2 separate regions of the Homo sapiens genome follow, and region 1 is linked to region 2. Evidence: fine-mapped expression QTL. A gene starts in region 2. The other region holds a variant in brackets. All regions are shown on one strand. Distances are between the middles of the regions. Region 1 has its middle 27 kb from the start of LINC01497. Region 2 holds the start of LINC01497 (long intergenic non-protein coding RNA 1497).

What was found. PIP is the estimated chance that this variant, and not a neighbour inherited with it, causes the effect.
Region 1: its variant is the best candidate, but not a certain one, in a credible set for the expression of LINC01497 in esophagus mucosa (GTEx, PIP 0.55).

The regions. Positions count from the first base shown.
Region 1 is chr17:69,932,035-69,937,425 of GRCh38, forward strand. No RefSeq gene overlaps it. Among named protein-coding and RNA genes, the nearest start is that of LINC01497, 27 kb to the right of the region's middle. The variant G/A (reference allele first, on the strand shown) is at 2,438.
Region 2 is chr17:69,958,354-69,963,744 of GRCh38, forward strand. It overlaps LINC01497 (long intergenic non-protein coding RNA 1497), which reads left to right and starts at 3,354. Exons shown (of 5, transcript NR_110875.1): 1 at 3,354-3,484.

The DNA of each region.
Region 1 (5,391 bases), 26 kb before region 2:
CGTTTGCTTTTGATCAAAGGCAATTCTAGGTCACTGACTGAATGGGATGGGTACAGCTAGTATTCCCAATAAGATGGTATCATCCACTCTGAAGAAGGTAGACACAAAATTAAGCAGTGTTTGGTGAGTTAATATGACTGAACTCAATTAGATACCTGGCCCTGTTAGACTTTTGTTTTTCTAGTCTACTTTAGCCTGAAGACTCTTAAGAAAGAGCATGGGATATGTAACAGCAACCTAAGAATTGAGGAAGGGTGAACAGATGAGGTCATTTTTGGCTTCTGTAAAATGCTAATGGCAAGAGATGAGACTTTATCTGAAAGTGAAGTTCTGGGAACACTGGGATGTAGAGAAAGTGGTGTGAAACTTTGAGCTATATTTAGCTGCATTTGGTTTTCCTTCGTTATGACGTGGGTATGTTAACTGATATAGTTTGGCTCTGTGTCCCCACCCAAATCTCATCAAGATGGTAATCCATATGTACTGAGAGAGGGACCTGGTAGATGGAGATTGGATCATGGTGGCCATTTCCCCTATGCTGTTCTCCTGATAGTGAATGAGTTCTCACAAGAGCTGATGGTTTTAAAAGTGTGGCACTTACTCACTCTTGCTGTCTTCTACCACCTTGTGAAGAAGGTGCCTGCTTCTCCTTTGCCTTCCACTATGATTGTAAGTTTCCTGAGGCCTCCCCAGTCATGTGGAACTATGAGTCAACGAAACCTCTTTTGTTTATAAATTACCCAGTCTCAGCATCTTTGTAGCAGTGTGAAAATGAACGAATACATTAGTCAATCTGTTTAACAAACCTATATTGTTATAATTCAACTGGAGAAAATAATAACCTACTTCTCAAAGTTATGAGCCTTAGTTTTGGAGACCATGAAGGAGACAGGATTGGACTTCAATAAGGGATGGTTGTTATGATTATGCATATCATACTTTTTACTGGGTGAGATGTTTATATGACAATTATTTGCTGCCTTAGCTATTGGTTTAAAATAACTAATTTTTGTTAATTATATTGCCATGACACTACGATTTTGTTAATATTTTTGTTAAATAGAGCATAAAGGTTTTGAGTAGTAAAAAAGCTGAACTGATAATATTTAGAGCATATACCTTAGTCTTTCATATCTTGGATTGATTTAAAATATTTTAAAATGAGATTATCTTTTTTCTTCAGGGATAATTTATACTTTATTTTTGGTTTCCTATGAAATTCTTTTCCAGATTTGCGGGGAAAGTATCTTTGTTATACGTGGTAGTCATTGAACCTGTAATTTATTTATTCACACTGAAAACAGAAAATGTAGCTAATATTGATAATACTTTCATAAGTTATTGAAGACTACCAAGAAATTTAATGATGGCACATAAACTGCATGTTAATGGTTAGAGTTTTTTATTTTGTATGAGTATATATTTGAGTGAAATAACATTCCAGTTCCTTGTTAGGGAAGAAACTAGAACAATCAAGGTGATTGAAGATTCTCTAAAGGCTTTGCATTTGATTCTATTGAAATCAATTATCCTGAGTGGGTCTGAAGGGACAATTGTGCTTCCTGGGTTGTAGGTTACTTGGTTTTAACAGCTTTATTGAGGTATAATTGATATCCCCCCAAAATTACATGTTTAGTGTATAAATTTGGTGAGTTTGAACATATACACATTCCCATGATATCATCAAAATATTAAACGTATCTATCACCTCCAAACGTTTTATTGTTCCCCTTTGTGTTTTTGCATGTGTATGTGGGAACACTTAATATGAGATCTAACCTCTTAACAAATTTTTGACTACACAATGCCATATTGGTGAAATAGAGGGCACTATGTTGTACATCAGATCTCTAGAATTTATTCATTGTGCATAAATAAAACTTTACACCCATTAAACTACTTTCCACTTCCCCCTCCCTTCCAGATCCTGGCAACCACCATCCTGTCCTCTGTTTCTATAAGTTTGACTATTTCAGATAAAAAAAATTCTACTGTTTGTAACAACATGGATGAACCCAGAGGACACTGTGCTAAGTGAAATAGGCAACCCAAAATGACAAATACTGCATGATTCCACTTCCGGTTTCCTTTTGTAGGTGGCTCCTAGGGTTTCTTGACCTGGACATAACTGACATTTGTGGTTGCATGATGCTTTATTGCAGGGAGGAAGGCTGTCCTGTGCATTGTAGGATGTTCAGCAGCATCCCTGGTCTCCCCTCTCTAGATGCCAGTAGCACCCTTCCCCAGTTGTAACAACCCAAAATGTTTCCAGACATTGCTAAATGTCTCTTGCAGGGCAGAACTGCCCACCCACTGAGAACCACTGTATAAAGGGAGGTGAACTTTCATCCCCAGAGAAAATGTTCTTCTTTACTGGTTATGACTGTTTGGACCAGGAGTATGGAAGTCCTTGTCCCGAATAAGTTCTTAATTAGAT[G/A]AGAGGGTTACATGCTAGTTGGAAGCTATAGTATAATGGGGATTTAATTCAAGGTTAGAATTGGAAGATGGAGAGAGAGTGTTATGCTTTAGAAGGAGTGAGGGCAATGTATCCACAAAAGGCAATAGTTCTGAGTGGATCCTTATCTGTGCTATAAGAAGTCTTAAGAGTTCATTGACCTCATCATGTATTATACACCTACATTTCTATTGTGATTGATGGAGAAACCAACGTTGTGTGTTTAGCCGAATTACCTAGAATGCACAGGTAATGAAGGCAGGAGTCACATCTCTCTTCCTCGTCTTTTCAAAGCTCTGGAAGGGTCCACTTCATAAAGTAGTACTTAGTAAGTATTTGTATAGAAAAGTGAATGGATTAAAAAATAAATGAATTACAAGGGATGTAGGTGGGTCAGGAGATCTGAGAAATGTTCTTCCTTTGTTTTCTCGCTCTCTCACCCAGGCTGGAGTGCAGTTGTGTGATCATGGTTCACTGCAGCCTCAAACTCCTGGGCTCAAGCAATCCTCCCACTTCAGCCTTCTGAGTAGCAAAGACTACAGATATGCACCACCACACCTGGCTAATTTCTTAATTTTTTTTGTAAAGATGGGGTCTCCCTGTGTTGCCCAGTCTTGTCTTGAACTCCTAGTCTCAAGTGATCCTCCCACCTCTGCCTCCCAAAGTGTTGAGATTACAGGCATGAGCCACCATGCCTGGCCCTGAGAAGACTTCTTATTCTACCGCCAGCTTATTGTGCAAGTCACTTCACCTTCCTGAATATCTTGATCTAAGAAATGGATAGTGTGTTAGGTGATCTTGAGAGTTTCTTCAGGCTGTGAAATATCATGGCTCTGACAAGATTACAGAATGTGTTGCATAATTGTGATATTAAAATTATTTGGTAACTTGAGCTATGAAAACTTGTGTGTGGAGCAAGTTGGTCTCCCTAGTGAGAGTCTGTTTCACCAAAAGCGATCAGAGAATGTTGATCATAGTTACCCAAAAGAACACATGCTACAGGTGGATATGAAATGAGGAATGGACAAAAACAAGCTGCTAGAGCACATAACTTTTCATTATGTATGTTAGGTATTTCTTTCTTTAATAAGGGTGAAATACTGAAGATCTAGTAAAAAGAGACTATTAACCAACAACTAAATTGTCTGGAATCAGGAGGGAGTAATCTCATACTAAGAAATAGTCCTATTCACATGTGAATTAAACATTAAGTTATTTCTTTGCAGGTATTTTGGAAATAAGTAATACATTTTCAATACACCTTTTAAGATATATCTTGTGGTAGAAATAGATTAGTCCTAAAAGGTGTTATTTTTTCCTACCATAGGGGCTGGTTGTTAACAATGCTCATAATATTATAACAAGCATGTTCAGATGATTAATTAATGTTGGAAATTCATCTTTCACCCAGACTCTAAACCAGAGAAACTACTTCCACAGGAAGCCTAATTACCACTCAGATAAACTAGTCAGTAAAAGTGACAGAAGTTTTACACCCCTGCAACTTGGTAAGGTAGAATACAAGCAGATTGCAAAAAAAAAAAAAAAAAAAAAAAAAAGCTGCCCATACTCTCAGAGCAAATCCAGGTGTAAAACCAATTTATGTTTCAAGTGCCTACCCATGCTGATCTAGCCAGGGTTATATAGATAATGTTAAGTGTAATTTATGGTTGAGGCAGATTTGTTTGGCAATACTGAAGGTTTTCTGTGGGAAGTTAGAAAAGATAGAGGCCTCCAAAAGCTATCACGACTTTAGGAAAAGTTTGGTTGATGACAGGTACAGAAGATGTGGTTTTTCACTCTTAGCTAAGAGTGCCTAAGTAGGCATGGCATCCAGGATTAGCTCTATGTGTGGCAGTGTGGTGACAGTCACGTGGTGATATGGTTTGGTTTTGTCCCACCCAAATCTCATCTTGAATTGTAACTCCCACAATTTCCATGTGTTGTGAGAGGAACCTGGTGGGAGGTAAATGAATCGTGGTGGGGGGCGGGGGGGGTCTTTCCCATGCCATTCCCATGATAGTGAATAAGTCTCGCAAGATCTGATGGTTTTATAAAGGGGAGTTTCCCTGCACAAGCTCTCTTCTCTCATCTGCCACCATGTGAGACGTGACTTTCATCTTCTGCCATGATTGTGAGGCCTCCCCAGCCATGTGGAAGGCATACCAAGTCTCGGGGATGTCTTTATCGGCAGTGTGAAAATGGACTAATACACGTGGCAATTCTAGAGGAGCAGAGAATCAAGCTATAGACTTTAGCAGGAAACTACTGGGATGGCAGGAAAATGACTGCAGTTCTGATGGCATTGGGAAGAGAGGGCAAGGAACAAAAGAAGACAAAACTCAGCAAGGCTCAGAAGCTCTAGTACTGGGGCAGCTGTTGAAAACAAAGAGCATCTAACCATGGTGTATGGCACTGGAGGGACAGTTATGAACTGAGATCATGAGGGAAATTCTGTCAAAAACAAAGCACAGATCTTCAGAAATTTCCAGACTCTAGAGATATGGAAAAGAGAGAAGATCATAAGCTGGAATACAGAAAAGGACCCCTCCAGTATCCAGCACTCTGGGGCTGGCAGGCCAGGTAAATCCTGGGAATATAAGAGACCAGGTTGGTTAGAATCTGGTTGGGCAAGAAGGATGACTACCCCAGAAATAATCAAGAGTTGCAGAACTTGTTTCACTCAATAACAAAAATCTGCTGAGTCTTTACTCTAAGCACCATGGTAGGCTCGGAGACGATAAAGATTAAATCAGAAATAATCTCATTCTTCCAGCATGGGCTACATAGTGATATCCCATCTCTACAAAAATATTTTTAAAAAATGAGTCTAGTAGGCATGGTGGCTTATACCTAGAGTACCAGCTATTCAGAAAACTGAGGCAGGATGATCGCTTGATCCCAGGAGTTTGAGGTTGCAGTGAGCCATGATTGCA
Region 2 (5,391 bases):
ATCATAAAAGAAAAAGAGCTAACTTCTTGGATTGATCTAGGGAAACATGGTGGAGGAGGTGGCATTAGATCTAGTCGTAAATAATATGTAAACTTGGGATTCCTATTAAAGGGCACATGTGGAAGTAGGGGGGCGCAAAATTGTTGGATGGAATTTAGGCTGAAGCATCTTAACCTCAAACCAAAGAGCAACGGAAACAGTTGTATAAGGGGAGAGGAAGGGAAGAGAAGAGAGTGTTAAAATCTTGATGAAAGGGATAGCAAAATTGGAGTAAGATATGACGCGAATTATCGATGGAGGTGTACAGGAAAGAATGCACCACATTTCAATTTCTTTCAATACATCCGGCAGAACAATGCCAACTAGAAGTCGAAGCACATTGTCCAGAATAGGCAAATGTACAGAGAGAGAAGGTAGAGTAGGGATAGCCAGAAGCTGGAGCGAGGGGGAACTAGGGAGTGACTGCTCATGGATATGTTTTTTTTCTTGAGGTGATTAAAAATGTTCTGAAATTAGGTTGTAATGATGGTTGTGTGGCTTTTGCAAGTGTTTAAAAAGTCATATATTCTCCACTTTAAAAACAGTTCCCACTTAACCTTTTCATATGTGTTTAGATATAGCTTGTTCATTGGTTGTCCTTATTTATGCTCTGTTTTGATTTAGTATTGGCCCATGTTTTATGCTTTATGTCCTCCTCAGATTAGCAATCTTGTTTTGTATCACAGTTTTGATGGTGGCCTTGCTCCAGGATACTACTTCAGGTCTTGTTGCTATTATTTCTACTATGGATAACAAGAGCCCCATCCTAGCAGATAGGACACTGCCCTCCTGAAACTATTCTCCACCTGGCTCCAAGCCTGAGGGGGCAAGGGAATTATGCAGATACATTCAATCAGAGTCATGAAAATCAATTAGGCAGCATTTTAGACGGGTTATAAATTGCTAAGGCTTAACTTAGAATGGGGTAGGATTGAGAATGAAAAAGAAAGGAAAGAGATCTTGTGCAAGAATGGGCAGGGTGTTGTTTCAGATTACACCTGGAATAGAGTCAGAGTAACCAAAGATAAATCACATTTTAATTCCCAAGTGACACAACTTTTTGTCACAGTTCCTTGGAATTTCTACTGGAGGGTTATATATTATGATATAACACTTTACACAGTGCTTGGTATACAGTAAATCTAGGTAATGGTTTTGGCAAGGATTTTATGTTTATGTTTTGTTTTTACTTCTTCCCAGGAGACTCCTGCTTTCAAGTCAGTTCATTAATCATTATCATTCTCATCTACAGGAGGTAGGAATTAGTATCCTCATTTTGTAAATGAGACTACTGAAGATGAATGAGATTAAATGATTTGCCCAAGGCCTCCATGTTGGACTGTGATTTTGTAAAAAGGCAGAGCAAATTCTGTTAGTTCTACATAGGAGATGGGAGATCACAGCAGGTTGATAGAATCTAGAAGGGGCAAAATGGAGATGAGAACTTAGAAGTAGAAATGGAAACAATGAAGATGTCAAGAAAGGCAAAGTCAAGACAGGTGAGAGCAAGACCCAGCTTTGGGGATTTGGATTGGCAGGGCCAACCCTGCAAACCAGCTCAGCCAGAAGAGGGGCAAGGCACCTTCATTATGGGTCAATGCTTTGGAGTTTGAAGGGGGAAAGTGGAGAGTCCCTGGGAACCTAAGCAACCCAGGAAGAAGAGGGTCAACGATAGCAGATCTCATGGAAAAAGTATTTATGGAAGTATGTTTTTTACCTACTGCCATTGTGAATTGTCTGACAGTTTCACCATGAGGTACAGAGCAGCAGGAAGGCTACTCAGAATCAATCTCATTTCTAGGGTGAAGACTCTTGTATGTCCTGATGGGATGACTTTCATAGAAGAACAGCCTGCAGATAATAATGGGTTACAATAAACTTACTGCTCCTGAAAGAACCAGCAACTAGTTTGTCCTAAAACCAATCTTCCCTTCTGATAAGTCCCAATGCCATGTAACCATTGGATACTTATCATTTGTTATATAATGAGTTACGTTTTCATATATTTATGCTAACTCTCTAACTTGACTATATATTCTACCAAGATAGAAGTAAATATTCCTTCCTCATTTTCCTATGGATATAAATTTATACATTGTACCTATTTAATCAAATACTTGACTGGTTGGATGCCTGCATCAAATGCAGACATGACTCCCCCCAAAATGGGCTTTGTAGGAGCCTATGTGGCAAAGATTAGGGTTCCTGGGAAGCCGAATCTGAGATGAAATTAAGAGCTCGTTATGTTAATTAAGGTGCATCCTTGGATTCAACACCTCTCGAGTTAGGGGAAGGAAGCAGACAGGGCAGAGAAAGAAGTTGAGCTTCCACGGAGACCCATCACAGCTTCAGGGAATCTCATAGAGATTTCTAGAGCTAGAATGACCCTTCAGCATTTTCTCAGGTTGATTTGCAATGAACAGGCCCTTACACTCCCTCCTTGATCAGTTTTTGGATGTGGGCTCCCTGCAAAGGGATGTGTCCTTGGGCAAGGCTGCTCTCTGTAACAGAGGCAATCCTTGGAAGGGCAGCCAGCTTATGGCCATCTGCCAACAGCTGAAGAGCAACAAGTTCTTCAGTGAAGGAAGGCCTGGCCAGTGCAGCACTGGGCTCATTTATATTAGGTAACTCCAGGTAAATGTAAGTGCATTTCTTAGAGGTGGGATGAGGTACTTTGAAGTACCTCACTGAGTTTAAAGGCAAAGGTATTGATACCCACAGTTATATTCATTATTTCTGGTTGAGTTCAATTACACTGAATTTGAGATGGCAGTTTGAAAATTTACTGTCAGTAACTACCAAAAAAAAAAAAAAAGAAAGAGCAGAGCATTGTCTTCGCGATTATGCTGGGACACTTTCAGAGTAAGTCCCCAAGATACAAGGTCCAAAAAAAATACTGATGTGGTACTCAATTGTGGTTCTTTGTAGTCTCTTTCTAAGAGAACTTCAGCTGCATGTTGGATGGAAAACAATATGAAACAAGGGAGAGAGAGAAGAAACAGAGTTTGTTAATATTCTCTGCTAGATTCTGCAGAGGAATCACTTTATTTTGCAGTTGCAACTAGCTTAAGTTATGTAGCTAGAAGTTATGTAGCTAGAAAGCTGACTTGCACACTTAAAGCTAATGAAGAGAAATGCAGGTTTTCCGGGGTAGGTTCTTGGCACTTCTCTGCAAATAGGTAAAAGGGAATGGCAGATATTCAAGCTTAGGGAGCAAGCAGCAAGGACAGAGCCTTCCCCGTCTCTGTGTGTTGAAGTCAGCAGATAGCACACCTGCTGCTGCGTGAGTTCCTTCTGCCAAGCAGAGCAGCACAGCTGCAAGACACCCTGCTTCTGGCTCTGAGCTTTGCTTGTCTTCAGGGATGGAGCCCCTCCCAAGGCAAGTTCAACTGGGTTCTTTGGCAGCCGAAGTCTACACGGACCCTGCAGGGAGCGGTGGAGAAAAGTGAGTTTGACATGCTTGGAAATATTTAGATCTTGGATGTAAACTTCAAGGAAAATATTTACTCTGTTTGTTTTAATACCACAGAGGTTTGGATCCCGGGAATCTTCAGAGTACAAAAGGCTCTTGCCAAGGCACCAATTTAACAATTTGGTCAGTGACAAAAGGGCATCCTGTTTAACTAGTCTGAATTTAAATAGCATGTTTCCAATGTATTAGCATGTCTGTCTCATCTGTTTACAGAACTGTTTTCTTTAACCCCTGAATTTTGTGTTTGGTTTATGAATTTGCACAGAATCAAATACAGTTTTTTAATAGAAAGCAAGCAAAAAAGCGGATCATCACATAGTTGAAAGAGTTGCTACCCGGGCATTGACAATAAACTTCCCACGATTACTTGACCATTCAGAGCAACCAGATCCTTGTAGAAGGCTACAAGCTCTCTTTACTCATGGCTCTTGGTGAAAAATTCCTTACTGTCTCTTTGCTGGTGCTGAGAAATACTGCAGAATGCTAAAGGACTGTCCAATTATATTTTTGGCGAGTGAATTATGATAAAAGAGAAGCCTTTTGTAAATGTGACTTGAAAAGTGGCGTATTTTGTGTCCTCTCTTTGTGTTTTATGCAGAATCCCTACTGCAGGACACAACTTTCAGGACTCACACTGATTTCCCTTTAGTTTTCTGTTTTTGTTAGTCTGCAGCAGAGTGGGAAATAGTTACTGTAAAGGGAAGTCTTAAGAAAACATATCAGTTATGTGCACAATATGTGTACATATATGGAGGAAAAATAGACAAAAAAAGGAAACTGGCATCACAATGCTCTCTCTAAGGGCCTATAAGGGATGAACTGGGACTCCTTCCTGCCTTCGGATAGCACATCAGGCAGAGAAAATGTTAACCATTTTTCAACTCTCAGAAAAGCAGATTTCATGATGTCATACAATGTCCTATTCCACTGTCAGATTGCTTCCCCACTTTGGCAATTAAAAATAATTACACTTTTTTTTTTTTTTTTTTTGCTGTACTGCCAAGCCAATTTCTCCTATACAATTGTTTTTAGACATGGCGAATGAACAGCTGCTTTTCAATTATTGGACACAGTTGTATTTCAATTCTCTTTTAACAGCTGTGAAACAGAATTCCTATTCAGAATTTTATAACAGTAAACCACACAAAAAGACTACTGTTGTCTCTCTGCTAATGGAGATTTTGTGTCCCACTTCTTTTTCAGTACCATTTCCCAGATGCTGTCTATTATCTTTCCTCCATCTTTGCTTGACTGTTACTACCATGTGTATGATTCCAACCAAGTCTGATGTCTGCTGATTAAACTTTCTTTACAATACCTTGGTCATTTTTTCCCTCCGTCAGAAGAGAAAGTTATCCCACTTCTCCTAACCAGTTGACAATTAAGTGAAGAAAGAATTTTAATACCTAAATGGTCATTCTGTCACTACCCACTATTGTCACATTTCTTCTTAGTTGGATATCAGTCATAAGAACAATTAGAGTGGGAAAAAGTCAAACATGTAAAAATTTATATTTGCTAATAAACTAATTTGCGTGGGAGCCATTAGAGAAATATAGACTCATCTGCTTTACAGCAGCTTAGAACAGACAGAGATCTACCAGGCCAGTTAGTATAACTCTAATGCCTTTCATCTTGGAGAAAGGAAAACAAGCTAGAGTGGTTAAGTAATTTTTGTTTTCAGATAAACCATCTCTGTTGTAGCTTAGATATCCTAGAGCTCAATTCCCCAGTTTTAGTAGCTTCCTTATTCTGTTTTTTGGTGTGTTTTTTTTGGACGGAGTCTCGCTCTTGTTGCCCAGGCTGGAGTGCAATGGCTCATCTCAGCTCACTGCAACCTCTGCCTCCTGGGTTGAAGGTTCAGGTGATTCTCCTGCCTC